3 linked regions of the Homo sapiens genome follow. The protein of the gene in region 3 interacts with the protein of the main gene of each other region in a biochemical or structural test. Each region holds a gene or a part of one and is shown on either strand. Other genes may lie near its edges. The genes, in order: GLS2, RGL4 and RALA.

What was found.
Region 1: the proteins of RALA (region 3) and GLS2 form a complex in vitro, tested with the Homo sapiens proteins (one study listed by BioGRID).
Region 2: the proteins of RALA (region 3) and RGL4 form a complex in vitro, tested with the Homo sapiens proteins (one study listed by BioGRID).

What each region holds. Positions count from the first base shown.
Region 1 is NC_000012.12:56,482,653-56,493,846, forward strand, and holds the start of GLS2 (glutaminase liver isoform, mitochondrial isoform 1 precursor), read right to left. Parts: upstream 5,510-11,194; 5' UTR 5,467-5,509; coding exon 5,285-5,466; intron 4,948-5,284; exon of another isoform or gene 4,917-4,947; coding exon of another isoform or gene 4,843-4,916; intron 4,681-4,842; exon of another isoform or gene 4,335-4,680; intron 4,301-4,334; exon of another isoform or gene 4,188-4,300; intron 1-4,187.
Region 2 is NC_000022.11:23,691,901-23,701,299, reverse strand, and holds the end of RGL4 (ral-GDS-related protein), read right to left. Parts: 5' UTR 9,270-9,399; coding exon 9,091-9,269; intron 8,966-9,090; coding exon 8,772-8,965; intron 8,632-8,771; coding exon 8,309-8,631; intron 7,542-8,308; coding exon 7,326-7,541; intron 7,182-7,325; exon of another isoform or gene 6,954-7,181; coding exon 6,850-6,953; exon of another isoform or gene 6,351-6,849; coding exon 6,281-6,350; exon of another isoform or gene 5,783-6,280; intron 4,885-5,782; exon of another isoform or gene 4,806-4,884; intron 4,687-4,805; coding exon 4,612-4,686; intron 4,130-4,611; coding exon 4,055-4,129; intron 3,463-4,054; coding exon 3,439-3,462; intron 3,089-3,438; coding exon 2,967-3,088; intron 2,746-2,966; coding exon of another isoform or gene 2,655-2,745; intron 2,457-2,654; coding exon 2,417-2,456; coding exon of another isoform or gene 2,187-2,416; 3' UTR 2,132-2,186; downstream 1-2,131.
Region 3 is NC_000007.14:39,616,698-39,627,977, reverse strand, and holds the start of RALA (ras-related protein Ral-A precursor), read right to left. Parts: upstream 4,407-11,280; 5' UTR 4,153-4,406; intron 3,652-4,152; exon of another isoform or gene 3,551-3,651; intron 1-3,550. UniProt on the Homo sapiens protein: Multifunctional GTPase involved in a variety of cellular processes including gene expression, cell migration, cell proliferation, oncogenic transformation and membrane trafficking.

The sequences.
Region 1 (11,194 bases), on a different chromosome or scaffold from region 3:
GGTCCCTGTGTCCCAAAGTATCTCTCTGGCTTATAACACCTAAAATTCCAGGTACTGAAGACTTCTTAGTTTTCAAGATTTCCATTAATATGTTAAAATATTTAGAAGAGTTATTGTTTTTTTAAGTAGAAAAGGGGTCTCACTATGTTGCCTAGGCCGATCTCAAACTCCTGGACTCAAGTGATCCTCCCACCTCAGCCTCCCAGAGTGCTGGGATTATAGGCGTGAGCCACCGCACCCAGCCAAGCAGAGTTATTTTATCAGATTATTTCCAAATATGACAGCTAGTTGCGATTAAGACCCTTCAAAGATCTTTGACCCAGTAATTTGACTTTCAGTGATTTATTCTACAGGTATACTCACACACCTCAAAAATAACATATTTACAATTATTCATCACATTGTTGTTTTTTCTTTTTTCTTTTTCTTTCTTTTTTTTTTTTTTTGAGACGGAGTCTTGCTGTGTCACCCAGGCTGGAGTGCAATGGTGTGATCTCGGCTCACTGTAGCCTCTGCCTCCTGGGTTCAAGTGATTCTCCTGCCTCAGCCTCCCAAGTAGCTGGGATTACAGGCACGTGCCACCACGCCCAGCTAATTTTTGTATTTTTAGTAGAGACAGGGTTTCACCATGTTGGCCAGGCTGGTCTCGAACTCCTGACCTTGTGATCCGCCTGCCTCCCCCTCCCAAAGTGCTGGGATTACAGGAGTGAGCCACCGCGCCCGGCCCTCATCACACTGTTAGTAATAGTAAGATTAGAAACAACTTGATGTGCAACAATAGGGAACTGATTAATTATGGTATATTCATATAATGCAATATTATGCAGTGTAAAAAAAAGAAATTGGGGTGTGCTCTAAGAATTGATATGGAATTATCTCTAAGATATAATATTAACTAAAAGAAGCGTGCTGTAGAACAGTATAATATTAACTAAAAGAAGCGTGTGGTAGTATTTATGTTTGTTTGTTTGTTTTTAGAGATGGGGTTTAGCTGTATTGCTCAAGCTGGCCTTGAACTCCTGGGCTCAAGTGATCCTTCTGCCTCAGCCTCCCTAGTAGCTGGGACTATAGGTGTATGCCACCATGCCCAGTTTTATTTATTTTTATTTTTAAATTTATTTTTTTATTTCAATAGGTTTTTGGGGAACAGGTGGTGTTTGGTTACATGAGTAAGTTCTTTAGTGCTAGCTTTATTTTTTCATTTGTTTTTTCTTTTTTTTCTTATATCAGTTTTCTCAGGTTGAAGCACAGGTTTAAAAGGGAAAAATATATATGTGTTTGCTTATTCAGGCACAGGATATTTCTAGAAGACCATTTAGGTAGAAATAGGTAAGACTGGCTGGGCATGGTGGCTCATGCCTGTAATCCCAGCACTTTGGGAGCCTAAGGTGGGCGGATCATGAGGTAAGGAGTTCGAGACCAGCCTGACCAACATGGTGAAACCCCATCTCTACTAAAAGTACAAGAATTAGCCGGGTGTGGTGGCGCGCACCTGTAATCCCAGCTACTCAGGAGGCTGAGGCAGGAGAATCGCTTGAACCCAGGAGGCGGAGGTTGCAGTGAGCTGAGATTACGCCACTGCTCTCCAGCCTGGGCAACAGAGCGAGACTCCATCTCAAATACATAAATACATAAATAGGTAAGATTGATTCATCTCCTTCTACAGAGATGACATAGGTGCCAGGAAAAAGGGATGGGAGGATACTTTTCACTATCTTTTGTATATTTTGAATTTTGAACCATATGGAATATATTATCTATTGAAACAATGGATTAAAAAATAATACTCAAACAGCTTGGCATAGACTAGGCATGTGTGTGTTTGGAGTCAGGAGGAGTACCAGAAGAGGGAATACCAGAAGAGTTTTCCTGCTTCTGGGGAAATCCGGTTGTCACAATGAAGCTAATGCCTATAGGGGGGAGAGGAGGAAAAAAGCTATCTGAGGGATAACTCAAGAAGGAAAGTACATAGGAACACTCTGAAGGCAGGACTCTGCCTGGAAGCCAACAGAAGACAGGAAATAATGCTATACCACTGAATGTATCACAAGCCTAAAAAAACTGCATATCCCTCAGATATGGATGGATCACCAATGTAATGTTGAGGGAAAACAAGCAACGTACAACAGCAATGTGTATAGTATGATACCAAAAAAGCAAGGTATAGGAACATTGTTTATAGGATACCATTTGTATAAAAAAAGGTAAAGTAGTATCAGCATGTATTTTATGCATAAAATATCTCTAGAAGACTATACATGATATTAATGACATCAAATTATCTCTGGGGGCAAAATTTCCTTGGAATTTATGAAATAATTGAACAAGTGTACAAGACTATATAGTAACCAAATTGAAGACTGGTTATATAAACTATGATACCTCAAACAATGGAATCTTTTAAAATGACAAGATGACAATGTCATACACATTCGATGATATTAAAAGCTGTTCATAAATGAAAAAGATAAGTTCAAGAATATGACTATTATCCCATTTTTGTTAAATTACATATACATATATAGGATATATATGAATATATCACAATATTAATTGGTTATCTCTAATACTGGGATATTTCTTTTTAAAATTTTTAAGTAATAAACTTATTTATTTATTTTTGACACAGGGTCTTGCTCTGTTGCCTAGGCTGGAGTGTGGTGATGCAATCATGGATCACTACAGCCTCGACCTACAGGGCTCAAGTGATCCTCCCACATCAATCTCCCAAGTAGCTGGGACTACAGGCATGCGCCACCATGCCTGGTTAATTTCTGTATTTTTTTTTTTTTGGCAGAGACAGGGTTTTGCCATGCTGCCCAAGCTGGTTTCGAACTCCTGAGCTCAAGTGATCCCCCTGCCTTGGCCACCCACAGTGCTGGGATTACAGGTGTGAGCCACTGCACCTGGCTCTAAATTTATATATTTTTTAATTGAAACATAATTGTACACATGTTTATGGGATGCATAGCAATGTTTCAATACACAGGATTATAGTGATCAGATAAGGGTAATTAGTATATCCATCATCTCAAACATTTATCATTTCTTTGTGTTGGGATATTTTCCTCTTGATACTCTTGTGTTTCTTTTAAAGTCATAAATATGGCCCGGCACGGTGGCTCACGCCTATAATCCCAGCACTTTGGGAGGCCGAGGCAGGTGGATTATCTGAGGTCATGAGTTTGAGACCAGCCTGGCCAACATGGTGAAACCCCATCTCTATTAAAAATACAAAAATTAGCCAGTCGTAGTGGTGGGTGCCTGTAATCCCAGCTACTCAGGAAGCTGAGGCAGAGGTTGCAGTGAGCCGAGATTGCGCCACTGCACTCCAGCCTGGGCGGCAAAGAGACTCTGTCTCCAAAAAAAAAAAAAAAAAAAAGTCATAAATACAGCTAAATAGCTAAATATTAAACAAACAATAACCTGAATAACAGCGCATTTCCTCTTTGCTGCTCTCTTTCCTCCCCCAAACACAGGAACCCCACCCCATCATGGTGTCACACTGCCAGAGCACATCACTCTCCAGTGCTCTCAACCCTTTCTGCCTGGGGAGCACCAGTCCGAGGATATGATAGGGGGTTCCCTGGGCAGAAGAAACAAGGTCCCCTAAAAACACTTCCATCACCAGACTCCACTGGATAAGGAGGTGTGTGTGTGGGGAACCAGGGATACCTCTAGTTCCCTACTCTGCAGAAGGCGGACAGATGAGGGAAGTTCAGCCTTTGCTGTATCCCACCATTATTTCTCCCATGGTGAATACCTGGGGGGAAGTTGGGGTGGAGACTAGAACAGGAGGGAGAGGGCTTATCCTTTAAATGTTCTGTGTCTCTTTAAGAAGAAGCTGATGGGAAAGTACTGTGTAATATGGATAAGCAGACACCATGACTATGAAAAAGAGAAAAGGGCCGGGCGTGGTGGCTCATGCCTGTAATCGCAGCACTTTGGGAGGCTGAGGCAGGCGGATCACCTGAAGTCAGGAGTTCAAGACCAGCAGGGCCAACACGGTGAAACCCTGTCTCTACTAAAACTACAAAAAGTAGCGGGTTGTGGTGGCGCGCACCTGTAATCCCAGCTACTCGAGGTAATCCCAGCTATTCGAGAGGCTGAGGCAGGAGAATTACTTGAACCCAGGAGGTGGAGATTGCAGTGAGTCGAGATGGTGCCACTGCACTCCAGCCTGTGTGACAGAGTGAGACTCCGTCTCAAAAAAGAAAGAAATAAAAGTACTGCATAATGTCATTAATAATAAATAATACCTATTGGTGTCCCTTACGACAGAGACTCGAGTAGTGGTGAGGTAGTGTTGTGTCAGAGACTCGAGTAGTGGTGAGGTAGTGTTGTGTCAGTCTGGCTACTTTACTGATGGTGTCCATGTTTCTGAGTGTCATCAGGGAGATGGCAGCGACGAGGGAGATGGCCCATTTCCTGTTCCTGCTACAGTAGAGCAGGGGCTCTTTGGACAGTGTCTATGCTGGCCCTCTGGGGAGGACAAGATTTCCTGCTCAGCACCGTCTGGGTCTCAGAGAAAAAGGCTCAGCCACCAAGTGTGTCCTAGGCGGTGGGGAAGATAAAGGTTTGGCATCCTGGGTGGAAGAAACACCCAAAGGAAGAGAACGTTTTAGATTCTGGAGCCTGGGCAGCACAAATAAAGGCTCTGACTGGCTCTGGTTTGGGAAATCTGCGTCTTAAAGACCTTTCCTCCATTACAAATATTCTCCCCATTCAACAACCAGTTTGGAAATTCCCCCCCATTCTGCTGTTCAGGGAGCACTGCTACGCACACACCCAACACTTATGGACGTACCTGCGCACCAATAATACACGCGCATCACACATTACCTGCCGAGAACACGCAGAAACACAACACACAGACCCCAGTACACCTGGACCGGAGGCAGGAGGCTGTTCCACATCCACGCATCTCCTAAAATACACACGAGGACTAGGGAAGGTGAGGACTGGCGGCGTGAGCCCGGCCCTGCACTCAGACACGTGAGCCAAGCAACACTCGGCGCGCATCTGTGATCCGGGTTAAGTGCGCACCTTGGACAGGCGCCATCCCCAGGACCCGCTTGCCCGAACGCACTCCTAGGCAGACGGCAGATTACCGCCCGAGCGCGGCGCACCCAAAGCCCCACATCCAAAGGAAAAGGCACCGAGGGCTAGTGAGCGAGGAGAGGGGAGATGAGCGGCGCTGCCTTGGAAGGGCACTCGGGAACTAGCGAGAACCACAGTGGGAGTGGGGGCAAGCCCGTCCCCTGCCCTGTCCCAGGAGCCTTACTGATCCTGGTGCTGCGGCTGGTGGCTGTGTGGCGTCTCTCTGCCCTGCGCCGCGGCCTCACTGAGGTGGTGCCGGACGCCCCCGCCAAGGAGGGGGCTCCGGCTCGGGTGACCCCAGCCTCCTCGCCCGCAGTGACTGCCAGCCCGGCTCAGGGCCTTCTGCAGAGCCTTCATGGAGCGCATGCCCCAGCAAGCCTCCGGCTCTGCAGGTGCGCCCGGGACCTCTAGCTGTGGCTGGGAAGGAGGGGCGGAGCGAGCGAGACAAGGTGCGGGGGAGTTCTGTGAGGGAGCGCTGGACCTGGAAGACGGAGAATGTGGGCCCGGTGGGTGGGGCTGGGGCTGGGGCAGGAGAAGGGGCCTGCCCCTTTAAAGCTGGCTCCAGGGTTAGGGGCACCCTCAGGACAGGGGCTAGGTGAGGAGCGTTGGGGATGAAGGAGAACCCGGGTGGCTTTCTAGTGGGTGGAGAGAGGGCGGTGCCTGGGAGCTGGAATGGACAATGCCCAGGTCCAATCACTGAGGAAGCAAAAACATTGAGGCGGGGAAAGGGTAAGGTTGCCCAATGAGAGCAAGACGGTGGGACCTTGCGACAGTCTGCGGATGCTTCCGCGTGGGCCCGGCGAGCGCGGGTATCCGCGGATGCTGAGGGCGGGAAAGGCGAGGACAAGCTGAGGCGAAGCCGGTGGGGGCGGGAGGCGCTCCCCGGGAACACCGTGGGGCTGCGAATGATGGAGTTGTCGTGTAGAGAGGAGGGTGCTGCCTCGAGAGAGGAGGCTAAGTAAGAGTGAGCCCAGTTCAGGAGGTCACTCAGAGAGCCTCGACCTCCGAAGGCCAAACCAGCGCCCAGTAACCCGGCGGGTAGCGTGGCGCGCGGCCGACGTGCGGTGGTGCTGAGTGGAGAGTAGGATGACTGCTGGGTACCCCGGGCAGAAGCAGCCGACCAGCACCTCAGGGAGGCATTGGGCGGCGGGAAGGTCGCTCTGGCGGTTAGGAAGCCTGGGTTCCAGTTTGTGTCCCTCTACCATTTATTTGGTGTAGGACTTGTTTTCAAATCTGGAAAGTTAAGACATTAAAATAAGTTGGCACGCAGAAAAACGTTTTATAAACCATGAAGTGCTCCCCACATTTTTCCTATTTTAATTGTTTGCCCTTGTCCTCCTCACGGGCAGAAAAGAGGCGATATACAAAAAGCATTTTGAAATCCAAGAACATTCAGGACTTTTGCCATTTGCAGCTAGAACTTTCACCTTGTATCTCGGCAGCGCCTAACCCAGCATCCATATTTAGTAGGGACTCATTATGTAAATGATAGCTATTATTGAGTGCCCATGGTGTTCCAACCGCTTAGTTTCTCTCTCCCTCTTACCAGAGACCTACAAAGTAGTTATTAGTCTCAATTTGAAGGTGAGGAAACTAAGACTAGGAAATTAAGAATTCTCGCATAAGGTAACCCAGCTAGTAAGTACCAGAACCAGAAATTAGACCCGTTTTTTTTTTTTAACTACAAGTCTCTCCTTCATGCAGCCCTTCTCAAAAATTAAGCATTGAATTGAATTATCCCGGGAGAAATGACCCCATCCCTAAAGGAGGTATTTTATGTGGAAGTATTATGATACAGTACTGGGAGTCTTTTCCTTGTGATAGTTCTGGCTGTATCACAAAATACTAGTTTTTGTTTGTTTGTTTTTGAGACGAAGTTTTGCTCTTGTTGCCCTAGCTGGAGTGCAATGGCGCAATCTCGACTCACTGCAACCTCCGCCTCCTGGGTTCATGCGATTCTCCTGCCTCAGCCTCCCTAGTAGCTGGGATTACAGGCGCCTGCTACCTCGCCCAGCTAATTTTTTGTATTTAGTAAAGATGTGGTTTCGCCATATCGGTCAGGCTGGTCTCAAACTCCTGACCTCAGATGATCCGCCCGCCTCAGCCTCCCACAAGTGCTGGGATTACAGGCATGAGCCACCGTGCTTGTCCCATAGTTTTCATTTTTGGATTAAAATGAGTTTCAAGGGTACTCGTGGGAAAACAAGTACTGAAACCAGTCAGGTGTGTTCTGTGGAAAGGCAGTTCTCCTTTGCCTTGGTTAGGGTTGGAGGGCTTATTTGGCTTAAAACCAGATGGAGTGACATTTGTTTTTGCTTGTTTTCGCCTTCTGTAGTCATTCTGTGTCTGCTGTATCTGTTCTCCTGTCCGTGGAAAGCCGTCTAATTCTGGGAGGGCTTGCTGCTTTATGCTTGGCTTTGCCCAAGAGGCAGAGTTCTGGGTCTCAATACTTAACGTAAACTCAATCCTGCATTAGTTTTTTTCATACGTAACAGACGAATCTTATCCTTGTTTCATAGAAATATGATTTATCTGAAACGTTTTGATCTATTCAAGAGAAAAATACCATCTGTTAGGGAATTTCTAAACATTACCCAGAAGTAATTTGCTTCCTTTTTTTCCTATTTCTGCCTCTTTGAATTAGCTTTATACTCTAATGAGTTCCTTACTCTCTTTCTCCCAGCACTCTTCCACTAATAGGAACTGGTTGGGTAGTGAAGAAGATCTATGCATGGAAGCAGAGGTTCTTTGCTTAGAGAACTAGCTCCAGCTGCACTTGGACCTTTGGACTAACTGTCTCCAATACAATATTGCTGTCTTTGCATGAGGATGGAGCATGAACTGGTGACTTGGGAGGCCAATGGTACTGTGTAAAGTATAAGATGCTGGAGAAGAACAAGTTTGTTGTCCCAGGTGGTTAAAGCTTGGCAGGGTCAGGTCCTCTTTTTGTTTCTAATTTGAAAAATACTCATCATCTAGTTTAATTTGTGCAAAACTATTAGCCAACTATGACAAGGGCAGCTAGAAATGAAGATTTTCATAACTGAAAGAAAGTTCTTTGTGTCTCTAACAGTGGGCTTTTAGGTTAGTCCATGGCTGTGCCAGAGTTTTGTGGTATGTGAGAGAGGATTAGACTTAATGATTTTGAATCCTTAATAAAAGCTAAATCCGGGCCGGGCGCGGTGGCTCATGCCTGTAATCCCAGCTGCTCAGGAGGCTGAGGCAGGAGAATTGCTTGAATCTGGGAGGCGGAGGTTGCGGTGAGCTGAGATCACGCCATTGCACTCCAGCCCGGGCAACAAGAGCAAAACTCCGTCTCAAACAAAAAAAAAAAAAGAAAAGAAAGAAAGAAGGAAAAGCTAATCCTCTGTGATAGGAAATTGATGTTTGGAGTTTGTTTATTTCTTATGATTTAGAGACTCATTTGTTCTACTCTATTTTGTGTGTGTGTGTGTGTGTGTGTGTGTGTGTGTGTGTGATGGAGTCTCGCTCTGTCGTCCATGCTGGAGTGCAATGGTGTGATCTTGGCTCACTGCAACATCCGCCTCCCGGGTTCAAGCAATTCTCCTGCCTCAGCCTTCCGAATAGCTGGGATTACAGGCACCCGCCAATATGCTCGGCTAATTTTCGTATTTTTAGTAGTGACGGAGTTTCACTATGTTGGCCAGGCTGGTCTCGAACTCCTGACCCCTTGATTTGCCCGCCTCAGCCTCTCAAAGTGCTAGGATTGCAGGTGTGAGCCACCGCACCTGGCCTGTTCTACTCTTTAGACTGTAGCTAGGATGTTAATTGGTCCAAGTAAAAGATTAGTTCATTTTTTTATTAATCTTTGTTAATGATACTATTGTTACAAACTCCTTTCTGCCTTAGTTTCTCCATTTGTAAAAGATAAACTTGTATTTTACTGGGTAAAATGTAAGTACTTGGGGCTCTGACATAATGAGCTTCCATTCACTCAATTAATATTTATTTGTTGGCATTCAGTGTGCCAGGTCCAGTGCTGGAAAATCCAGAAATTTAAAAATTTAATAAACCAGTTTCTACTGGGAGAAATGAGAAAGCTTATGTTTAAAATTCCTAATGAAAAATGCTGTGATGTAGAGACATGCAGAAGAAAGTATAAAGGGGACATCTAACTAAGCTGGGGGTGAAGGGCCACTGGGATAGAAGAGGAATGGTGACTGACAGGAGCTGGTTTTTAAAGCACGAGAGGTGTTTCAGACAGAGGGCTCTACAAGAATAAACATAGCCTGAGAGGAACATTTGAGGGACTCTACCTCTAGTTTGGTTGGAATGAAACGTGGGTATAAGAATGTGGACCAGCCGGGCGTGGTGGCTTATGCCTGTAATCCCAGCACTTTGGGAGACTGAGGTGGGCAGATCACAAGGTCAGGAGTTCGAGACCAGCCTGACCAACACGGTGAAACCCCATCTCTACTGAAAATACAAAAATTAGCCAGGCGTGGTGGCATGCACCTGTAATCTCAGCTACTCAGGAGGCTGAGGCAGGAGAATCAGTTGAACCTGGGAGGCAGAGGTTGCAGTGAGCCAAGATCGCGCCACTGCACTCCAGCCTGGGTGACAGCGAGACTCCATCTCAAAAAAAAAAAAAAAAAAAAAAAAAAGAATGGGGACCAATGAAACTGAGGATGTAGGTATGGGATGCATGTTTTAACTTGATGCTAGACTTTCATGGAGTAAATGAAATTTAATAAAAGTTTAAGCGTGTCTGTGATCTACTCCAGTGTGCTTTCCTAATTCTTCTTTGGTTTAGCAATAACAAAATGAACATTTATAGGACTGAAAAAATATAAATATAAGCCTATTAAAAAACATATCATCACACTGGTCCATTTACGATGCCTAACATGCATTTTCTCTATTTTTCCAAATAATATCTTGTATAATCTGGGTTCTCCAATAGCTATTAAAGTAGATTCTAGCAAGTCTTAATCAACAAAATATACTAAAATAATGTAGATTTTGCTAGAATTCCTAAAAAGGATTTAGAAAAGTCTGTAGGCGAAAGCTAATTTGAAGGAATTTGAAAGCCTTTGCCAACACAGCAAGAAGAAAATACCTTCGGGGTTTGCTTGATAGCATTTTCTTTTTTCTTTTTTCCCTTCTCCAAGTTATTGCTAGAGAAATAGTATTTTAATACTTGTTTTTCTTTGACTTAAAGACTATGAAAGATGTCAGAATCTTGTATTACTCTGTAGTGAACAAATGAGACCCTTCTCTAAAAGACTAGGTTAAATTAACTTTTAACCACATTTACCTAAGTGAAATGCTCCATAAGCCATATTTTATTAAGATTGTATATAATTTGAAATTTTTTACATCACCTACTTTGACCTGTCAGTTTGCAAAAAAACTGTCATTCTAGTTTTCTGATTTTCAGGAAAGTTTTTTTTTTTTTTTAACTGTATGAATTTTCTTTTTTTTTTTTTTTTTAAGTATTTATTGATCATTCTTGGGTGTTTCTCGGAGAAGGGGATGTGGCAGGGTCATAGGATAATAGTGGAGAGAAGGTCAGCAGATAAACATGTGAACAAAGGTCTCTGGTTTTCCTAGGCAGAGGTCCCTGCAGCCTTCCACAGTGTTTGTGTCCCTGGGTACTTGAGATTAGGGAGTGGTGATGACTCTTAATGTGCATGCTGCCTTCAAGCATCTGTTTAACAAAGCACATCTTGCACCGCCCTTAATCCATTTAACCCTGAGTTGACACAGCACATGTTTCAGAGAGCACGGGGTTCGGGTAAGGTTATAGATTAACAGCATCCCAAGGCAGAAGAATTTTTCTTAGTACAGAACAAAATGGAGTCTCCTATGTCTACTTCTTTCTACAGACACAGTAACAATCTGATCTTTCTTTTCCCCACATTTCTCCCTTTTCTTTTCGACAAAACCGCCATCGTCATCATGGCCCGTTCTCGATGGTCGCTGTCTCTTCAGAGCTGTTGGGTACACCTCCCAGACGGGGCGGCTGGGCAGAGTCGCTCCCCACTTCCCAGACGGGGTGGCTGGGCAGAGGTGCTCCTCACTTCCCAGAGGGGGCGGCCGGGCAGAGGCGCTCCTCACTTCCCAGAGGGGG
Region 2 (9,399 bases), on a different chromosome or scaffold from region 3:
TTCTGTGTCCTTAAAACCAATTTGCTCTGTAGTAAAGGTATACAGTTAAAGAGTAGAGTGGGACATTTTGATCATGCATATATACCTTGTGTAATGATGAAAGCAAGGCATTGACTGTCTCTGTTACCTTGTGTAGTTATTATTTATTAGTTCTCTGTCGTTGCAATATGCAGAATCCTTCTTTTCAGCCTTTTTTGGAAAATATGGTAGGATACTGTTAACTCTAGACACCCTACTGTGGAGTAGAACAGCTGAATTTATTCCTGTCATCTGAATGTAACATTGTATCCATTTCCCAGTTCCTGCCCGGACTCCCCAACCCCCCGCCTCTCTTCACCACTGTGGAACTTTCTAGTTCTAGGAGATAAAGTCGTTTAGAGAGAAAGTTGATCTCATTCTCACATGCATGAAATCATGCTGTTTGTCTTTCTCTGCCTGACTCATTTTGTTGAAGGTCATGTCCTCCAGGTTTCTGCACGTTGCTGCAGATGACATGATTTCATGAATTTCTGCGGCCGAAGAGGATTCCACTGCGTGCTGCAGTTTCTTTATCCCTTTATCTGTGCATGAACAGGTAGGTGGATTGGATACCTTTGCTATTGTGAGTAGTGCTTCAGTCACCATAGGAAGGCCGATATCTCTTCAACATAACAGATTCCATGCGCTTTCTGTGTATAACCAGTGGTGGGATTGATAGGTGAACGGGTAGTTGTAATGTAAAATGTTTAAGGCACCTTCAACTGCTTCGCTTCGTGTGTCTAGTAATGTACCTTCCCACCAATAGTTTATAAAAGTGTCTTTTTCTGCGTTTCTACGTTGGCCACTGCCTGTGAACATATGGGTTTTTTGTTGTTTTTGGTAAGTTTCATTCTAATTAGAGTGAGAGGTATCTGAGTCTGGTTTGCAGTTAGACATTTGTGTGAGGATTAGTGAAGTTGAGCAACTTCTCTTTGACCTGTCAGTCAATTTCGTGTTTTCTCTTCAGATGTGCCTGTTCAGGTTCTTTGCCCAGTTTTAGCTTGGGTATTAGGTTTTGTTCATTTTTCCAGTTAAGAGTAGTGTTAGTTTCTTGTACATGTTAGATAACAACCCCTTTCACAGATGATTCTGCTGAACTTTCTTTCAATCTGTAGGATGCCTTCTTTAATGGTTCATTGTTTCTCTTCCCCATGCGGAAGCTCTAAAATGATGTTTAGTCCTATGTGTTTGTATTCACATTTTTGTTTTCCATCCAAAAAGAATAAAAAATAAGAAAAAGTATTGCCAAATCAATTGCATGGTCAAAGGGTTTCTTGCCATAGATAATTTTTGGTTTTCTTTTCTTTCTTTTTTGCAAACTGCGTGCATAGATACAAGTTTTGCCGAAATAGAAACTCCCGCTTTTCTTATAGGAGCTTTGCGGCTCCAGGATTGGATTTAGGTGTCTATTTTGTGTTGATTTGGGGGTATTACATGTTTCAGACCCTGAAATGTTGATTTCTTTGGCATGTTTTTGTCTGATATCCCACAATGGGGGTTGTGTTCAAATTAAGCTGTGGGACATCTTTTAGATACTGAGTTCAAACAGTTCTCACCTTCCTTGATGTTCATTTAGGGGAGAGGTGTCAGAAGGTCTGGGAAGATCCACAGTGGAAAAAGTTTATCTGTATTTCGTGGAGACTGATGGCCAGCTCCCTTCTGCCCAGGACTTCTGGAGAAGGCCAGCCCTACCACTTGCTTAAATACCTCCCATCTCCAGCCCTTCAGTAAATATTTAAGTGATTTGTTAAATATTTAAACCTTAAGAAAATTGAGTAACCCAGTGGAACTTGAATTTAACTAGAATTTAAGTTTGAGAATAGCTGGTCAGTAGAACAAATGTGACATACTATGGGTGACATAGATTGGGTGACATACTATGGCTTTTAAGGGGTTTTGTTTTGTTCTGTTTGTTTTCTTAAGCAGAGTTAACAATAATTTGAATAAAGAAGGAAAACATTAAATGCTTGGCATGTGTAATGTGAATGCTATTCCATAACTTGTTCAGCCATAGCCTCAATTTGACATGCTAGGCTATGAATCCTAAAGACTGGTATATGGTTACCGCACTGGAGTTACTTTTCTCATTCCAACAACTACAGAACATTTTGAATAGTTTTTTAAAATTTTATTTTAACGAAAGTTAAGAAAAAACCCTTACTTATACACTAAAGAAAATAAACATAAAATGGTCTCCCGCCTGACTCACAAAAGTCCCATGGCCTGATCCTGGCCAGCAGGAGCAGTTGGTGATGAGGATCCAGGGCAAGATGCAGCTGAGCTGCCAGCCTCCTAGATGTGGTTCCCTGGTGTCTACGGTCTGGGTGAGGGATGGTGCAGAGCCGGTGTTCTGGCCAGCATCCCGGTGGGTTCCCAGCCACTGCAGGATGTTGCCAGCCTACGGGTTTTCGGGCTCCAGCTGGCAGGACAGCTTGTAGCTGCAGGACAGAGAAGCAGCTGTGAGGCCACCATGAGCCACACATCAGGTCCCCTGTCAGTGCCTGCCCAGCTGGAATCCTGGGTCCCCAGTGGTCCCCATGCAACAGGGCTTGATGCTGGCCGTGGAGGCATGGCCATAGGCTCTCTGCAGCTGGCCACGGGAGAGCCTCCTCTAGGCCAGGTGGGGTGGCTCACACCTGTAACGTCAGTACTTTGGGAGGCTGAGGTGGGTGGATTGCTTGAGGCCAGGAGTTTGAGACGATCCTGGACATCATCGTGAAACCCCATCTGTACCAGAACAACAACAGCAGAACAACCGGACATGGTGGTGTACAGCGGTAGTCCCAGCTGCTTGGGAGGCTGAGGAAGGACTTGAGCCCAGAAGGCAGACGTTGCAGTGAACAGAGATGGTGACACTGCAGTGCAGCCTGGGCGACAGAGCCAGACCATGTTAAAAAAAAAAAATGGAGAGCCTTCTCCCACCCTCAGCCCATGGGCTAGGCCCTCACCTCTCTTTGTCACTGAGCTGCTCCATTCTTGTGAAATAGGTGACAAATTTCTCAAGAGGCCGAAGCCTGTAATTCATGGCAGCCACTTGGAGCAGCTGCATTTCCTGCAGAACTCGGACCTCCTAGAGACAGAGGACAGGATGCTGACAGGGCCTGGGTGGAAGTTGCTGTGGGGGCCTTTGGCAGGCAGGGAGAAGGGGCTGGTCCCTGGGGCAGTTTTCTGAAGGGGTCCCATGCAGCGCCCCCAGCCTGTTCTCAGAGTTGGATATAAACAGCCCCTCCTGCAGGAATTGGTCTTTGATTCCAGTGCTTTTCCCATTTTCTCCTGGGATAGGTCCCCTCCTCCTGTGTGTGTCAAACACTCCCAGTAAGCCTAAGATGTAGAGGATGGAGCCAGGGAGTGTCCTGCCCAGGGTGGACTGTGACGTCCACATCCCCACCCTCATCCAACGTGAGTGCCCCAGCTGCTCACCTTGCTCCTCTTGTTGGTGTTGCCCTGGAAGGCAGACAGAGTCCATCAGAAAGGCCCCTGGCCCACAACCAGCCCCACCCCACCCCTTCCCATGCTGCACTACTGCCAGGGCCACCAGGGTCAGGGGATGTGCACACGACAGGACTTGGACCTGCCTCAGGCTCCGGGCTCTAGAGCAGGGGGAATGGGAGCTGAGGCCCAGGGACCTTCTGCCCCAACCCTCTGTGATGACAGACAGGGAAACTGAGGTCTCTCATAGAAAGAAAGCGCTCAGTGACCTTGGAACTGCCTGCCCTTGGAGAGGCTCAATTTCACCCTCCTATTACGGGACTACCCTAGGGAGAAGCTGAGCCCAGTTCAGCCCACACCTCAGCAGCTTTGCAGTCAGGCAGCTCTGCAGCTTCACCACTCAGGAATAGGGCCTGGTGGCTGCCATGGAGCCTCCATCACTCAGAGGTGATGAGATGGGCCTGACACCCCCACCCACAGGAGCAGCTGTGAGGCTCTTAGGAGAGGAGGTTTGCCAAGGGCTGAGATCTAAAGGCTCGGTCCAGGACCCTCTCCTCCCAAGCTTCAGGATCTTGGTTCCCAAGCACCCTGCCCCAGGCTCACTCACATCCAGGTCGTCCGGGATGGCCGAATCCAGCCTCTGTAACTCAGTCAGAAAATCCCCCAGGAAGGGGACCACACCCTGTGCCAAGGAGGGGTGGGGAGGTGGGAGGGGTAGTGGTGATGAGTATTGGCCCTCAGGTGCCTGCCCAAGGTCCTGTCCCATGAAATCCCATCAGCCCCTGTCTCCCAGAGCCCCCTCCTCAGGTCTCCCGGTTGGAGCAGCCAAAGACCCTCAGCTGCCTTTCCCAATTCTCTGCCTCCTGTATCCCAGCTGACCTCCAAGTCTAGCAAGCACTCCTTGTTAACCTCTATGGTGGGATTTTAACAAGTCACAAAGGCCTGTGGTCCCAGCTTTACCCTTCCCCACATCTAGTCTGAGTCCAGCTTTCCCAGACCCTTCCTCTGGTCTCTCAAATGAAGGTTTTCCAGGCCCAGTGGCCACAGGAGGACAGGGCTGGGGAGGAAGCCCCCGCTGTCTTGATATGGAGGCCTCCAGCTGGCGGGGAAGGGAGCCCTGTCCTCTGATCCCCTGCGGCCCGTCCATGCCACAGGCTCACTCACCTTCTTCTGCCTCCGCAGCCTCATCTGGACTCTCTGGGGGTTCCTCTCCTGGGTGGCCACCTTAAAGCTCCCCGCCTGCCAGGTGTCAGCGACAGGGACAGTGAGGCTCTCCTCCTCTCCCCCAGTTACACCCCAGCCACCCCGCACTTGGATCCCCAGGGAGTGGCGGGAGCCACCTGGCACCGTGCTCATACCACTGGCCCAGATCCACACTCCCTGTGTGTGTCACCCAGTCTTGCAGCCGGGCCTCCCTGAGACTGTTTCCTCTTCTGTAAAGAGTGATGCAAACCACAGCTACCTCACAGGGCCTCTGAGGGCTCAGTTTCCTGTAGCTGTTGCCGTTGTTCTCACCGTCATCCCTCTGAGGAAGAACCAGGCACGAGCACCCTCAAATTGCTTTCTTTTCTTGAACTTCATTTCTACCCTGTGAGGCCTGCACTACAGGCTCAGCATCCCTTCATTTTCCAGATGAGGAAACAGAGGCCCAGAGCGGGCAGTGGCTCCCCAGGGCCCCCAAAGAGAGGACGCCTCCTTCTGCTCCTGGAGGCTCCGTCTCGGCTGCCTTCAGCTCACATCCCAGCACCACCACCCATCAGGGTCGTGTTCTCTGGAGTCTTTGAGTGTCTAGGTCTCCAGCCACATACAGTCGTGATGGGAAAGGGACAGGGCATTTTAGGAGACCTGGTTAAGTGGCACCTGCCTATCCCAGCCCCACTGGAATCTCTGCCACGCAAACTGGGTTTGAGCCATGCCAAAGGCTTCGCCTCGCCAATGATCCCCCAGGGGAGTTCCGTGCACGGAACTCTCTCTTTCTCCACTGAGGAAGTAGCCTCCTGATGCGCCATCTCTGACTGCAATGGCAGGGTTTTCCAGAGTCCTGGGTGGGGTGACATGTTGCCTTCTCATTTGCATGGACGATTCTGAGATCTGGTCAGGGAGGATCCCCTAGCAATGTATGAATCCCCCAGATACTTGTCATGAGCATGCGTCGCTGCTAACCGGTGAGAATCCTCTGACATGACCGTTTTTGGGTGTCTGCAAAGGGCAGAGTGGGGAGTCCCAGCAAACAGCTACGTCTGTCCCCAGTATGCCCATTGGTACCCAAAGCTGGGCAGTTACTGGACTCCCTGCCACATGAGCTTCCTCTGTTGTTGTTCCCCCTCTCCCCCAGTGCAGGCCAAGGCCCCCTGCCCATGGAGGTGTGCTGCAGACAGCAGCAGCAGCAGCAGCAGCAGCAGCAGCAGCAGCAGAGGCCTGGCTTCCTGAGGAATTGCTGGCCGGTTTGAGGAAGGAAGGAAGTCCCACCTACCATGATCACCCTCCAGCCTGGAGGAAGCTCCATGCCAGCAGCATGGACCAGCATGGGAGCCAGAGCCCTGCTAATGCTGCAGCTCATCACCCCTGCTCAGCAGCCCAGCAGCCCAGCAGCCATTGCCACATCCCATTTCCAGGGCCTCCTGCCCCCATGCCCCCACGTGCCCATGGACCGACACACCACTCTTCCTGTTGGCCCAAGGTAGGCATGGAGGGAATTTTTCAAGTCCACTTTTAGTAGGTAAGTCAAAACCAAACAAAATAACCACTCGACACCTGGTCCAATGCCCTTCCAAACTCACTCTTTTCTCTGACCCTTAAACACTTGTCCTGCATCTCCCAGACTCCACTGTACCTTGATCAGTAGGTCCCTCTTCACTGCAGTGTCTTTTTTGCAGAGTTCTTTTAGCTCTTTCATGCTTTTGCTATGGGCAGAGGAAAGAAAGAAGGGTAAATTTGGGAATCAGGGGAGATTTGTGAGTTCCAGTCCCTTTTGTTTGAAAACCCAGTGAATCCCAGCTTACTGGGTGAGAGTTTTCAGTGGAGTCCTCTGATCACAGGGGCTCCAGAGGACCAGGGTGGGACCTCTCATGCTCCTCCCCTGGGCCCCATCTCCACTTCACATGAGCCACTGCGTGTTTACAGTTAGCTTTCAGCTGGACACAGAGTTCCACTGCTGGGTACAAACACCTGAAAGCCTCCAGTTGGCTCCAGTCTGTTCCTGATGGTTAAAAAACCTTAGTCCTGAGTTGGAAATCCTTGCCTAGGAGTCCAGGGCAGCTTAGTGACCACAGCCACCGGCCCATCCCTGCCTCCAGTGTCCCTGGACTCCAAGAACCTTTCAGAGTCATTGAGGGCACATGGGGGGAGACCTGTGAGTCCCTAGGTCAACCCTGATGCTGCCATGGAGAGAGCCCTCCTCACCTGGACACTCCTGCCCACGTCTTGTGTAGCTGACCTATTGGGTTGCTGCACAGAGCAGAGACGATGACGTGCACCGAGGAGAAGTTGTTGAGGCTTAGGCACTCCTGGAGAGGGAAGAATGAGCTGTGCGGTTCAGAGTTGGAGCTTGGCCCACTACAGCCTCAGCCCCCTCTGCTGAGATCTCCCCTCCTGGATGAAGCAGAGGCCTGGGGAGCCTCAGGAGGGCAGACCTGGGGCCGAGTGGATGTCACTCATCTAGGAGGATTTTAGTTCAACCCAAGGAAGACCCCAGGTCGGAAGTGAGCAGCCACCACTGGGCCGTGGGAGTCAAGGTGAGTGAAGCTCTGGCAAGAAGAGCCTAGGGGATGTGCAGGGTCCAGGCCAGAGATACAGATGCCGATCCTGAAAGCCGATGGAGGAGAAGAGGAAGTTCCCCATTTTTAAAGAGGGAATCCCCAGGCCCAACCATAGCTTACCCTGGCCACCTTGATCCAGTGCTCCACCACCCTGGCCCTGTCCCGGGCCCTCATGCTGTGGTCCCCGAGGCAGGAGGTGGTGATGCAGTTGGTGAGCCTGTTGAAGTGTGCGATGGTGGCACGAACTGTGGGTGCCATGTGCTCATTCCCCTTCAGATGTCCTTGGCCCCAGATGCAGCCCAAGCATTCGTGGAGCACCACCTTCTTGAACAGCTCCTTTGGGGGAGGAGGAGAGTGTCACGGACACAGCACACTGCAGCTCAGAGTCACCCACAGTCCCAGGCAGGGACTGAGCTCACAGTCATCCACGGTCTCTGGCAGGAACCAAGCTGGAGCTCAGAAAGCTTTAAAATGGGCTCCAGACTTGTGGGAGTCCCTGGGTTTGGTTTTCTGCCCCCGAGGGACCTGAATGCATCATGGCCTAGAACCCAACAAGGGTGGGAAGAGAGAGTGACATTTTCTCCCAGGCCATCCACACTCTAAGAACTAGAAGGTGGCTCAGGCCTGCCCATCCTGAGGCCTCGTCTTCCTCCCATCCCAATCAGCCCTCTACTACTCCTCTCCGTACCGGTGCACTTTCCTTGTGGCAGCTGCAACTATGGGCTCTGTTTGGGTGTCTACCATAGAATCCAGTATGCATCAGGTACCTAATAAGTGCTGAGGGTAGTGAGGCTCCTGAGCAGCTGGGTGAGTGACCCATGGCCCTGCCTGCCCCACAGTGAGCACCTGCCCTGCCCTGCTTTCTGTCCATCTCCTGTCACTCAGTCTGCACAGTCACTCTGTGCAGCTGGCGCTGGTGATGTCCCATCTCTGCCGTCCACATGCAGACAGGGAAGGCTTGTGGGTGAGGAAACTCATCCAGATCCCACGGTTGGTAAGAAGTGGGGCTGAAATTGGACCGAGGGCATTGGCTGCTCCTCAGGGAGAGGCTGGTCTGAGACAGCTGGTGCCAGAGACACAGCCTGCAAAGCTCAGCTGCTCACCGCATCCATGAGGGTCAGCTGCTCTGCCAGCAGCCTGGGAGGGAAGGTCGTCATGTCAGGCAGCTCCTCACTGGGTTGGTTCTTTACAGACCCACGACAGGGACAGGAGGACTCTGGGGCTGACTGTGGCTCCAGCACTGTCCCTGGAGGGGGCCCTTCCCCTGGTGCTGGTGCTGGCCCTGGTGCTGAATGTAGATATCCTGGTGGACCCAGGGCTGCAGGTGACTCTGGCTCCAGAGCAGGCCCCAGGTCCGCCAGCAGTGGTGGTGCTGGCTCCAGGGCCGGCATTGTTAATGCGTGTTGCCCAGGACGTGGAGCAGGATCTGGAAAAGGAGAAAAGGTCACCACACCAGTCATTTTTCACTGGGTTTTCCAAGCACAGAAATGACCGGGTGGAATTTAAGGGAATTGTAGCCCCAAAACACCACCCCCGGAAAGTCTTGCAGACTGCAAGCCCCCTCACCATCTGGCTTGGCCTCGTTGGGCTCCGGAAGCACCAACTGGCCTAGGACAATTTCCTGATGGTCCTCCAAGCCCAGTCCAGGCCAGGAGAGGTTCCTGAAGGCCAGCTTTATCCGGAAAGATGACCGTTGCGGGGGCTGATAGTAAACTGAAGTGTTTTCGGGGGGCCAGTTGAACAAAATGGAGGTGATGGTGCTGGTGATGGAGTAGACAGCTGAGTCAGAGGCCTGGCCTTCTCCCACACAACCCTCCAGGGCACCCCTGCGTGGTTCTGGGTCCCTGGCCTGTTGCTGCCAGTGTGGAGGACAGCCCCACCCTACCGTAAGCCATCAGTGCTGTCCTGGAAGGGGCAGACCTGGCCATACAGCAGGGCTGTACAGACCCTCGTGCGCCCTGGCGTCCCACAGACATTCTCTTCCCAAAGGCCCTGGAGCACAGCACTGTACACCTGGGCACTCAAGACTGCAGCTGCAGGCAGATTTGTGAGCAGCTTCCTCATCAAAGCTCCAGATCTGGGTCCCCTGGTCCTGGGGTTAGGAGGGAAGGGGCAGATGTCGGGGGGAGGAGGACAGGGAGAGCTGGGAAGCCACGGTGCTGAGGGGGATGGGTCTCTCAGTGGCCAGCTGTGA
Region 3 (11,280 bases):
AAAATATGAAAGATAAAGGGGAAAAAAGAGAGTTAGGTAAGGAGCACATCTTGAAGGTTTTGTATATGAGATTAAGGATAAATGGAGTTTGAATTTTATTAATGGGCAAAAAAGAGCCACAAGAGGATTTTAAGCAGAGAAATATCACCATTGTTCTAAGCAAGAATGGGAAAAGTATCAGATGGGTTCCAACCATAGGCTAGAAGGCTGCTGTAGTAATCCAGAATATCTAGACAGGGCAGCTGAACTCAGTGTTTGGTCACGCAGTGTGGCAACCTCCACTTTTAATGGAGTACTATGTTAGCTTCTCAACTACATAAGAAAACAGATCCTGTGGCTTAGATGACCATAATCATAACTTTTGGAAACTGGGGGATCTTTGCCCACCTTCCCAATAAATCTGGGAGTATACGCCATTTTATAATCTAACTATGTCTTATTGTCCAAAATAACATTACCAAACCCTGACATTTAGTTTCAAAAGTAAATTCAGCAATAAAATTGGATCCCAGACTTTAAGGAGACTATGTATGTCAGTGTTACATCTATTGCATCTAATATAGGACCCTAGCTGTGAAGGCCTTTAAGAATAGTATAATTTTATGGAAGCATGCCTTTTTTGGCTTGTAAAGACTACCCTCTTGACTTTCAGAAACTAAGTCATCACCTTCACGTATAATTAAATCAAAGATGCAAATTCTCACCTAAAATTTACTCATACATATTTTAGAAACCCATAGAACTTTAATTTCTTTTTTTCTATACGGCAACCCAAATCCTTATGAATGCGATAAGGTAATAAGAAAGATGTCTTAAAGAAAAAACAGAATAACTGTTACTTATGGGGGCCAGACAATCAGCTGTTTTTTACTTAAGGGTACATCTTTTAAAAAAAAAAAAGAGAGAGAGAGAGAGATGGACACATTCTTCAAATTAAGCCTATTTAAAAGTGCATTTTAAAAAGTGCACAGGCTTAGGAGGGAAGAGAATTCTACCAGCACTGAATAGCAGCTAAACCCTTACAAGACTTCTGCCACTTTTAAGCCTCCATCTTAAACCCAGAGAAAATGATTAATGGTCTCAAACGGTTAAAAACAGACCAAGCACATCTCTGCTTCTTTTACCATTCTTTCTACTGTCCCCCATAGCTTCTCCCCCATTTCCATTAGTGAAAGAACGAACTAAAAAAAATGTGATTTCAAGGAAAGGTCACTACAAATAGATTTATGGTATTCCTCTCAAATAGGGACGATTCTGTTACTTTAAAAAGCACTAATCAAACACCAGAATTGAGTCCAAATACTTTACCGGGACACCCACGGGAAAAATGCCCAACCATTTTTCCATCATGGCACACATGGACGGTGATAACACTGTATTTGTAGGCACGCTGAAGATAAAAGAGAAGAATGGCTGCTGCTTGAGGCCACCTGGCCAGGACTGCTGGCAACCCCAGGCCACACTTGATGTCCAAGAGAGAGGAATCAGTATCTTCACCTTCCTGAAGCTCCAGTTCCAGCTCAGTCAGAACTGCCTTTTCCACAGCCATTTAGGATTAACTGCAATAATACTCAGTGCTCTCAGCAATTGTTACTTTCAAATCTAGGCTCTACTAAACACAAGCTAGGTGCCTAGCCTCTGGCAAATAACTTCAATTTACCTTAATAAAGTATGGGAAAACTACCTGTCTTGCAGAAGTGTTGTGGAGATTAGAAATAATTTAAGTAAAGCTCTTATCACAGTGCTCGGCAGGCAATCAACACATGAGAACTCTTATTACCAAGAGGGTTGCTGAATTAAAGAAGGAAAATCTAACCTCTGTATAGTGGTAATGTCACTGAGGTAAGAAATTGCTGGCTTCCCTCTCCTTAGTGTCTAAGAGTTAAAATATTTTATAAAACAATGAAAATCATAAACTGTCTCCTTCAAAATCATAGTCTTTTTCCTCATTAACATTCACAGCCTCTTATTCCAGTATTTTAAAAGTAATTGTCCTTGCCACTCATCTACTAAAGAATACAAATGCATATTACACTGATATGCATATCTACAAGAATTGACACTGGTACATGTATTTATGTTCTGTAGAAGCTAAGCTTGGAAAAACAGTGCAGGACCACCACCACATACTTGGAGAGGAGAGAAAACGTCAGCACTTTCTTCTTATTTGAACCTCCCTAATGTGAAAATAATCCAACCATCTACAGACAAAAATATTCCCTCACAAATGGTAGACAAGATTCTTTTCTATAATTAGCCCTTTCTTCCTTTGGAAAGCCCTGTGAAGAAAGTGTTGTAATGAAGTACTGCTTCAAAATAAATGATCCATATTATTGCACACTCAGCAAACACACTAGAGAACAGCATCTGGATCTTGGAAAATAAATGTAAAAGAGGCTATTGGTAAATCATGCCAAGGTCACATCAGGATTTCAGAGGATTGCGTGTATTCATGGGAAGAATGAACCACTATAAGCATTCTGGGAAGCACCACGTTATCCAAACAATGGTAACTCCTAATTTCCTCTTTTTCATTAAGATAGGGTACAGTTATCAACCCCAAACATAAACTTGATGTGTATCACCAGGCAGTCTCTTCCTACTAACTCTGAATATGCTCAAGTAGTAAGCATTTAACACTAGAATACAAGTTATAATGCCCAGCACAATTTTAATATAATTTTAACCTTTCAGAGGAGGATAGTTTTGGAAGGCAAAGAACTCTGACTGCTGAAGAATGAAACACGAAGTAAAGTCTGTAAGTGGCAAGAACCTAAAACAAAACAAACAGCCTAGCCCAACAAAAATAAGCAACTCCTGGATGGTGACTGTGAGATAACCTATACACTCATTCATTCAGTGCAGAAATGTGTGAACAGCTTCTATGTTCAAGGCATACTGCATAGAAACAGTCATAAGTAGGACATGGCTCCTGCCCTAAAGAAATCCAAGGTCAAAAAACGGTGTTGTCAGATAATACTTCACAATAATAGTGTATTATTTTAATACAGGAGTCGGTTTAGAATAATATTGTATTACCAGAGACAGAAAAACATGAGCTAATAAGACACACTGAAATACATTAATAAACATACTGTAAGAGTTTACCAATGAAATCTGTTATCCAATTTCTGGAATATGATTAAAGTTGCAATTTACTTTCTGGAAAAGAATTAACTTATGATACATGTTTTATAAAGGTTGTTCCCCCCCCACACCACACAATTTGTAAATTAGGTGCTTTTCAGCTTGACACGTAGGGCGTGGCACGGGACTTCTCACACTACCTCAGCCACACTTGGATGAGCTCTTACAAGTCTGGACATTCAGGTTTCCGAGCACAGGCCAGTTAACTCCCTAATTCTCCCTAAATCCTGAAACAACACTGCCACCCCTGTGTGCCGTCACCCCCGTCTACTTAAACACATATATCCAGGCTAAAGCATGCCAATCACATCTTCCACTTCTGGAAATCTTTCAGAAACGAACCACAGAGGAAACACCTCTCTCCCAAAATGTATTCTCTTCCTCATATTAGAAGCTAGATTACCTGAAAATGGGCTAAAGCTGTGCAAGCGCCCAAGGCCAGGTATTCAGTTCAGTGCGGAGAGTCTAATGACTTTAAGTCTGAAAAACCATTCCTTTAACTGGCAAAAAAAAAAAAAAACACAAACAAACAAAACAAACAAACAAAAAACCCTGGCGGAGATGCTTAAAAAGCAGCGGCTCTAGCACAGGCAAGGAGTGGAAAGAAAGGGAAGGAGGGGAGAGGGGTGGAGTGAGGCGCGGGGACTGCGGCGGCAGCGGGTTGCCCCAGGTCGCGGGCACCGCCCGGGCGGGAACTTGGGCGCCGTGGACGAAAGGTGCGGGGTGACCTTCGGACGAGGCCAACTGAGACCGGCTGCCGGGCGCAGGGGACCTCTCCGCAGCCGCTCACTCTCGGGGGCTCACTCGCCCCACAGCGGCGAACGCGGTGCCCCGGATTCCAGCCGGGCTCATCTCGCAGCTCGTCCCCGGGCAGAACGTGGGATGTGCAATCTCGGCAGCCCGAACCCGCGTCAGGGCCTCGGCCCGCCGCCGCCCGGACACACCCCCGCCGCCGCCCGGGTGGCCCCAGTCCCTCCCCGGGCGGCCCGAGCGGGCATCGCTCACCTGCACCGCGAGCCAGTCCGCCGCCCCGAGGGCTCCGGAAGCCGCGGCTGCGTGGCTCCGGCCGGAGGGTACTCGGTCCTTGTCGCCTGGAAGGCCCCGCGCCGGGAGCGGTCGAAGGAGGAGTCTGACGGGTGGCGGGGGAGCCTGGGCGGCTGGAGGAGGAGGAGGAGGAGGAGGAGAAGGAGGAGGAGGACTCCGACGCTTTGCTCTGGGGAGATCCACCCTCCTCCTGGCGGCTCTGCAGCAGCCGCCACAGATCACTTCCGGGGCGCTGGGGAGCGGGGCGGGGCAGCTGGGGAGCGACTTCCTGTCCGTGGGCTGAGAGGAGGGTGATCATGGGCCTGGGCCGCAGAACAGTGGCTCGGAGGGCGCAGGCTGCCCGGCCTCCGCCCCCTGCAAGCTGAGGGCTGTCCGCGCTGTCTTTCCGACGGCCCCACCCCCGGCTCTCTGAGCTCCGCGAGGTGAAGTCATCTCCCGGGGGCTCGGGAGTGGCCGCGGGCCTCGCGGAGGTTCCCGGATCTCGGCGTCGTTGCCGCGGTGTCCTTGTCTTTCTTTTGGGGACCAGGAGGGGGTTCTTGGGGGAAGGAGGGGAGAGCGGAGGCCGCCATCTTGCTTCTAGAGGGTCAGCTCATGTTCCCTGGGCGTCTCAGGGTTGAGGCCGCTCGTGTGGCGTGGCCGGGGGTATTCAGAGCGGAGCTGGCGACGTGGCTTGTCACGGGCCAAATCCCAGGAGGCGGGTCAGCCGCCTACCCTGGCTGGAGGGTCTCGTGGCTGCCCTGGGCCTCATCTAACTGCTGATCCCCTGGAGAATTCGCTTTCTCGGACGGTCTGCGAGTTCTTTCTGAGGGGTGTCGGACCCCCCTGCGACTCTGCAGGTGTCGGTGTGGCACTGAGATCATCTTGCGGCCCCATGGCACTGTGATTTGGTAGCTTGTGAGAAGTAGTTTCACTAAATCCGTAAATTTAAGTTAGCAGCTACAGATTCTTATGTCTTGACATTTATTCGCTTATCTCTCTTTGCTCCCCACAAATTGAGTACCAACTATATTCCTGGTATGAGCCATTCAAGGAATGTCCAGTCTAGTGGGCAGACATACATGAAAGCAAATCATTGCTATTGGAAGTATGGTTTATCAAGATGTACAGCGTGAAGAATGGATAGCTTTACTAACGTAGGTTAGAGTTTTAAAGATAAATAGGCATTTTCTACTACAAAAATAGGGGTGGGATGGCAAATCCGGATCCGAACAGAAAGGAGATGCAGCACGGGGACAAATAATTTGTTGAGAAGAATGAGTAATAATTACAGGTCTTGAAGTTCAAACTTAGGTTGCTGAAGAAGATGAGGCTGGAGAAGAAAACAGGAGCCAAATCACGAATCGTCTATGCCTTGGTGAGGCAATGAGTGGACAGATTACAATTTAAGCTATTCTTCTGTTGGTAGAGAACAGATAACTTGGGGGGGTGGAGGTGGGGGGGCAGAGAAGGATAAGCAGAGAGCCCACAAGGGGGCCATTGCAGAAGCCAGTAAGAGAAAACTTAAGGACCCTGTGTGAATGGTAGTGAGCATCCAAAGGAGATGGATTCCTAAAATATTCAAGAGGCCATATCAACTGGTAATTGGTTGCTAGGGGCAGCTGCCAGATAGGAGAATGGAAGAGGCAATGATGATGCCTTGTTTTGCTTTGAGGGAGGGGCAGGATAAGGGTGTATTTTACTAAATAAGATAAGGAAGAGTTAGGATGAGTCCTGGGAGGGGACATTTTTGCAGAAAAAAAATGAGTTCAGTTTTGGAGTTGATGAGTGAAGTAAGAGTGGTGCTGTCTAATGGTGGTTGCTATATGGGTCTAGAGCTCTAGGGAGGAGCTGGGCTGAAGTTGGAAACACCACAGGTTTAGATGACCATAACCAAGCTGACTGCAGTCTTACGTCATTGAGCACAGTTTCAAAACCACTTCTCCTTTCTCCCTGCCTTTACTTGGGAAAATTACTGAAATACTGCATTAAAAAACCCAATATGGTGATATGTGTCCATCCATAGACCAATATTCTAATGTTTAATGGTCTTCTAAGGACCCTAAAGGTCAGGTTTAGCAGAAACTGGATGTAACAGTGGTAACTATTAATAGTATAGCATCATTAACTCATAAAATGAAATATTATCTATGTTTATATTTTAATATTTTAATTTTTTTCTTTTTTATTCTGTAGGAATTGCTCCATTCCAATAAAAATATTTTAAATTTAATCATTGACAACAGTTAAGCTGGCCATAGGCTGAGGATTGAGGATGGTGGGTTGCACAAATATCTGCTGAATGGAGAGCTAGAAGGAGGATGACTTCAAGAAGAGTCAGCAATAGGAACGCAATGAAAGACAACCTCAAATTCATTAGTCAGCCTGTCTCAGCTGCTTTTTGGTGGCTCACAGCTATGCTAACCTAGCATAAAGCAGTGAGAAATAGAATACTTCATTTTGAGCAGAGCTTCAGAAAACCACAAATAGTAAAAGCCCTATAAATAATAGCTACAGCTGCAAACCAAAGACTAATTATTAGTTTTTAACTCTATATCCCTGTAGAGCAGCATTTTTGAACACACAAAAAAAGAGAAACGCGTTCACTTACGTCTTAGATTATTTAAATACAGTATTCTCAATTTGTCTAGGATAAAAAAGCATTTAGGTGTATTGAACAACCATATAATGGATAATATACTGAACAGGAAATGAGAATAATTAGCTTGAGTCCCTTTTTTGTCAGTTGTTCACCGTATGACCCTAGCAATGTTACTTAACCTCTCTATGCCCTAGTTTCTCTGACTGTAAAATAGAGATAATAATAACTTTCTATCAGCCGCCTCTCAAAGATATTATAGGAAATAACAAATTAATGCTATGAAAGCTCTTTGAGGTACTTGGATGAAAGGGCATAATTGTAAGTACATATTATTAGTAATTAGCACTAATATCCAGTAGCACCCATGAGCATTCCTGACTTTGCTGCCTGGATTACTCAAAGAACATGAAGGATCCTGTTTTGAAATACACTTAGATCTTTTTTCTTAACTTGTGAATTGACTTTACTATTTATGATCAAACCTTGTGTATTAACAAATATAGTTAATGAAAGAGGGAAGTAAAAAGAAGTTTTGGTAACCACAACTTTTATATTCATGCTACTCATAGCTAATATATGCTTTGGGGGAAAATACAGGGTAGATAGGGATTTGCCAGAAGCATGTTTTAGAATTAATGATTAGTCTACTCCAGTCAGTTAACTGGAATTTTGTATTAAAAACATTATTCATGTCCCCATAGAATAATGCAGTCCCTATAGAATTTATAGACAGTTACATGTTTGACACAATTAAGTTGAACATTCCTGTGAAACTCTGTCATTCTCATCACTGTTTAATCACAAACATGTAATGAAATATATAGACTTGTGAAGTTTTGTCCAATGTCTATCCCTAAAGTAGATGAGAATTTTTTCCATTAAATTGGTGACTTCAGTATTTCCTTTAGAGAGGTGTATGCATAATGTAAACATTTAAATGTATTCATGACTACATAATGTGCATGTTTATTTTTATACACTTGCTTATATACCAATTTATAAAATTATCATATAATGTATATTAACTATACATCTGGGAACAGCAATGACAAACAAGGCTTCTTTGTGTTTTAGGGCCAGATAAGAAAGTAATTGGTTAATAGCCATTTGTCACCACTGGTGAAAAATCAACTCAAAATCATGTTTTATTATTTATTAGAGTTATGAGCATTATCTATAAGATTCATGACACCATGACTTGGTGTGGTGGCTCACACCTGTAATCCCAGCATTTTGGGAGGCCGAGGCATGTGGATCGCTTGAATACAGGAGTTAAAGACTAGCTTGGACAGCATAGGGAGCCCTCATCTCTATTAAAAAAAAAAATTAAAAAAAAACAACACTAGGCAGGCATAGTGGCATTCACCTGTGGTCCCAGTTACTCAGTAGGCTGAGGTGGATCCCTTGAACCCAGGAGGTCGAGGCTACAGTGCCTGTGATCATTACACTGTACTGCAGCCTGGGCAACAAAATGAAACCCTGTCTCAAAAAAGAAAAAAAATTCCGTGACACCTTGACATTTGTACTATTTCATTTTGTTTTCACAATTTTGTGAGATACAAATTGTTGAAAGAAATAGGCTCAGAGTGCTGAAAGACTAGCGCTCTGAGACTAGTTTTTAAAGACTTAAAAATTCACTACAGTTGTCAAGTAACATACCCAAACACACATTTTGAGATTCTCAAAATATATTGTTTCTTTTAGTACTTTATACCAGGGTCACCAGCTTGATATGACAGTCCAGAATGTATTTATAATATGGACATTTCTGGCTTATTATTGATTGCCTGCAGCATCTCCAAAATTCAGCCAAACTTAACGTTTTTAAAACTGAAAACTACAATTCTTATGTTTATGGCTGTATCTTTACCAGCTTGAAGACAGGTACATTGTTTTATTCATTTTTGTATCCTTCATGGTGCCCAAAATAAGTACTCAGAAAATATTTTGGGGATGAGTAAAATGTATATTGTGATGTTTAGTTGAATTAGCGGGAAAAAAGCTGATACAATCACCTCAGAAACTTTTTTAGGAGGTCGTACACATTTTCAGCACATTCATGTGAAGATAGTTTATTTGGGTTTGTACTTTAAATTGGTGGAACCATTGCCTCAATTTCCCACTTCATTTTTAATGACGTCATGCCTTGGAGAGATAGGCTTAAGTAGGTGATGCAGATGACAGTCACCTGTATGATATGCCTCTGGATATGTTTGTTGGGCTTAGATAGTCCGGATGACCCACAACAAAAGGGTCATCTAGAATATCTAAACACAGCTTTAATGAGAATGTGTAAAGAGTGGGGTTATGAGAGTTTGGGTCTTCATAATTCTCCCCTTCATGCCGACGACCCTTGTGGACCACATATTTCTATACTTTTCTGTCAAGGGATTAGAGGATAAGACTACTCTATCAGTGGTTCCCAAATGTGACTGCTTATCACAATCACCTGTGTAGTTTCAAAGGCAATTCAGATTCTCAAGTCCCACTCTAAACAGAAAATATTTAGATTTAGGATTAGAAAATACTGGGTGAAGTCCAAGGCATCTGTAACTGTAATAACACTCTCCCTTGAATTCCAATGATCAGTCAGGTTTGGGAAGTTCTGGTTTCAATAACTTGTTCAAGGTCACACAGAACCCTAAATAGAGCCAGAAACTAACTCAAATCTTTTGAGTCCAAGTTAAATATATTTTCATTGGACTCCTGCTGTCCATTTACTGACAATATATGATGGGGTAGGATGAAGAGGTGGGGAGAAAAGTAGCAATTTTAGTTTTTTCATTTTTATTTTTTACCATATTCTATGACATGGTTTTAAGATTAAATGAGCTAACATCCATAGAGTGCTTAGAACAGTATCTGGCACATGGTAATTAGGTGTAACGGTTCAACGAATAAGTCTCCATTGTCCAGTCATGGCATTCACTTTGCCTGGGGTTACATTAGGTAACATTTTATTGGATATCGACTTTTTCTATGAAGAAAAAAATGTATGTAAATAAAGGTGGAATCTTTAGCCTTTATTTGTCATGGAAGCCCTGAATTTGTATAGCTGAAAATATTTCTATATTGTTTCTTTTCATCTTTTCTGATATATTAAGAAAATGTTAATGATATACTTATTAAATAAAATTGTGGATGTATAGCTGTGTAGTATTTTTATATTATCTAATTTAGCATATAAGATAAGGTATTTTACATTGTCTTCCTATCACTGAACTAGCTCCAAAATTGATTCTTATTGGTATGTAATTAAGCATTTAGTTTTTAGAAGTTATTGTTTGGATTGATCTTCCAGATGAAATATTTCCCCTTAACGAGGTAATAGATATACGTGGCTCTATTTTATTCCCTTATTTCTCTGCAAGTTTTTCAGTTTTTCAATCTTGAACAACTTTTTACACTTGTTAATTATAAATAAAATTATGCATTTTCATTACTAGTAAGGGAAGAACCCAATTTAATACTTTAAAATGCTCTTTGATACATTTGGACAAAGTCTGTGAAAATATGCCTTTGGTCAGTCCCTGTCACTATGAAAATTGACATCCATTTTTGTTTTTATTCAGTTTTATAAGTTATATTATTTTTGAGGGATTACCCTATACCCAGCATCAATTTCTAGTGGCTCCTGTAATCCCAGCACTTTGGGAGGCTGAGGCAGGAGAATGGCGTGAACCCGGGAGGCGGAGCTCGCAGTGAGCCGTGATCGCGCCACTGCTCTCCAGCCTGGGCAACAAAGCGAGACTCCATCTCAAAAAAAAAAAAAAAAAAAAAAAAAAAAAAAAAAAAAAAAAAAAAAACCAATTATTGTATTATAAATGAATTGATTTATCCTGGAAAAAGGTAGAAGTAGTGATAGACCAGAACAGAAGATATTTATAACCTCAGGAGGTATATGGCAGGTAGAGTAGATCAGACTAATGGAGAAGCTAGAAAAAGAATCAGATATCATCAGTGATGAAGCTCCTAACTATTTGAATCCAGAGTCAGCCAAGGAAATGGGGTTAAATTACCACTTGTGAAATATTTGCAGTATTTCAGACATTGTATAAGGCACTTACCAAAACAAGAAATGGCTGGCTAGGTCCCATGAATCTAGGTAGTTTGAGTCTTGAGAGTCAGAGAAAATAGTAATAGTAAACAGGATATTTATATTACTCTATATTTCTACACTTATATACTTTATTATAAGAATTCAATTAATAATAACATGAGTGTGTGTTAGTTACTACTTATAATCAAATTAACAAGTTTTGAACTATACTCATTCCTTCCTCCATTCTTTTTACAATAGAGGCCATCATTCAATGCGTATTCTAGGTCTTGGCTACTCCTGTCTAGTTGGGACCTTGGTCCATCAATTATTCTCTTTCTGTTGTGTCTTCAGCCTCTCACTCTTTACTGGTTTCTTGCCATTAGCATTCTCATTTGTTAAAGTGTCTTCTTCATGCATATCCTCCTTCTAGCTTCTGCTCAAATTATCCTTTCCCCTAAGGAGAATTTTT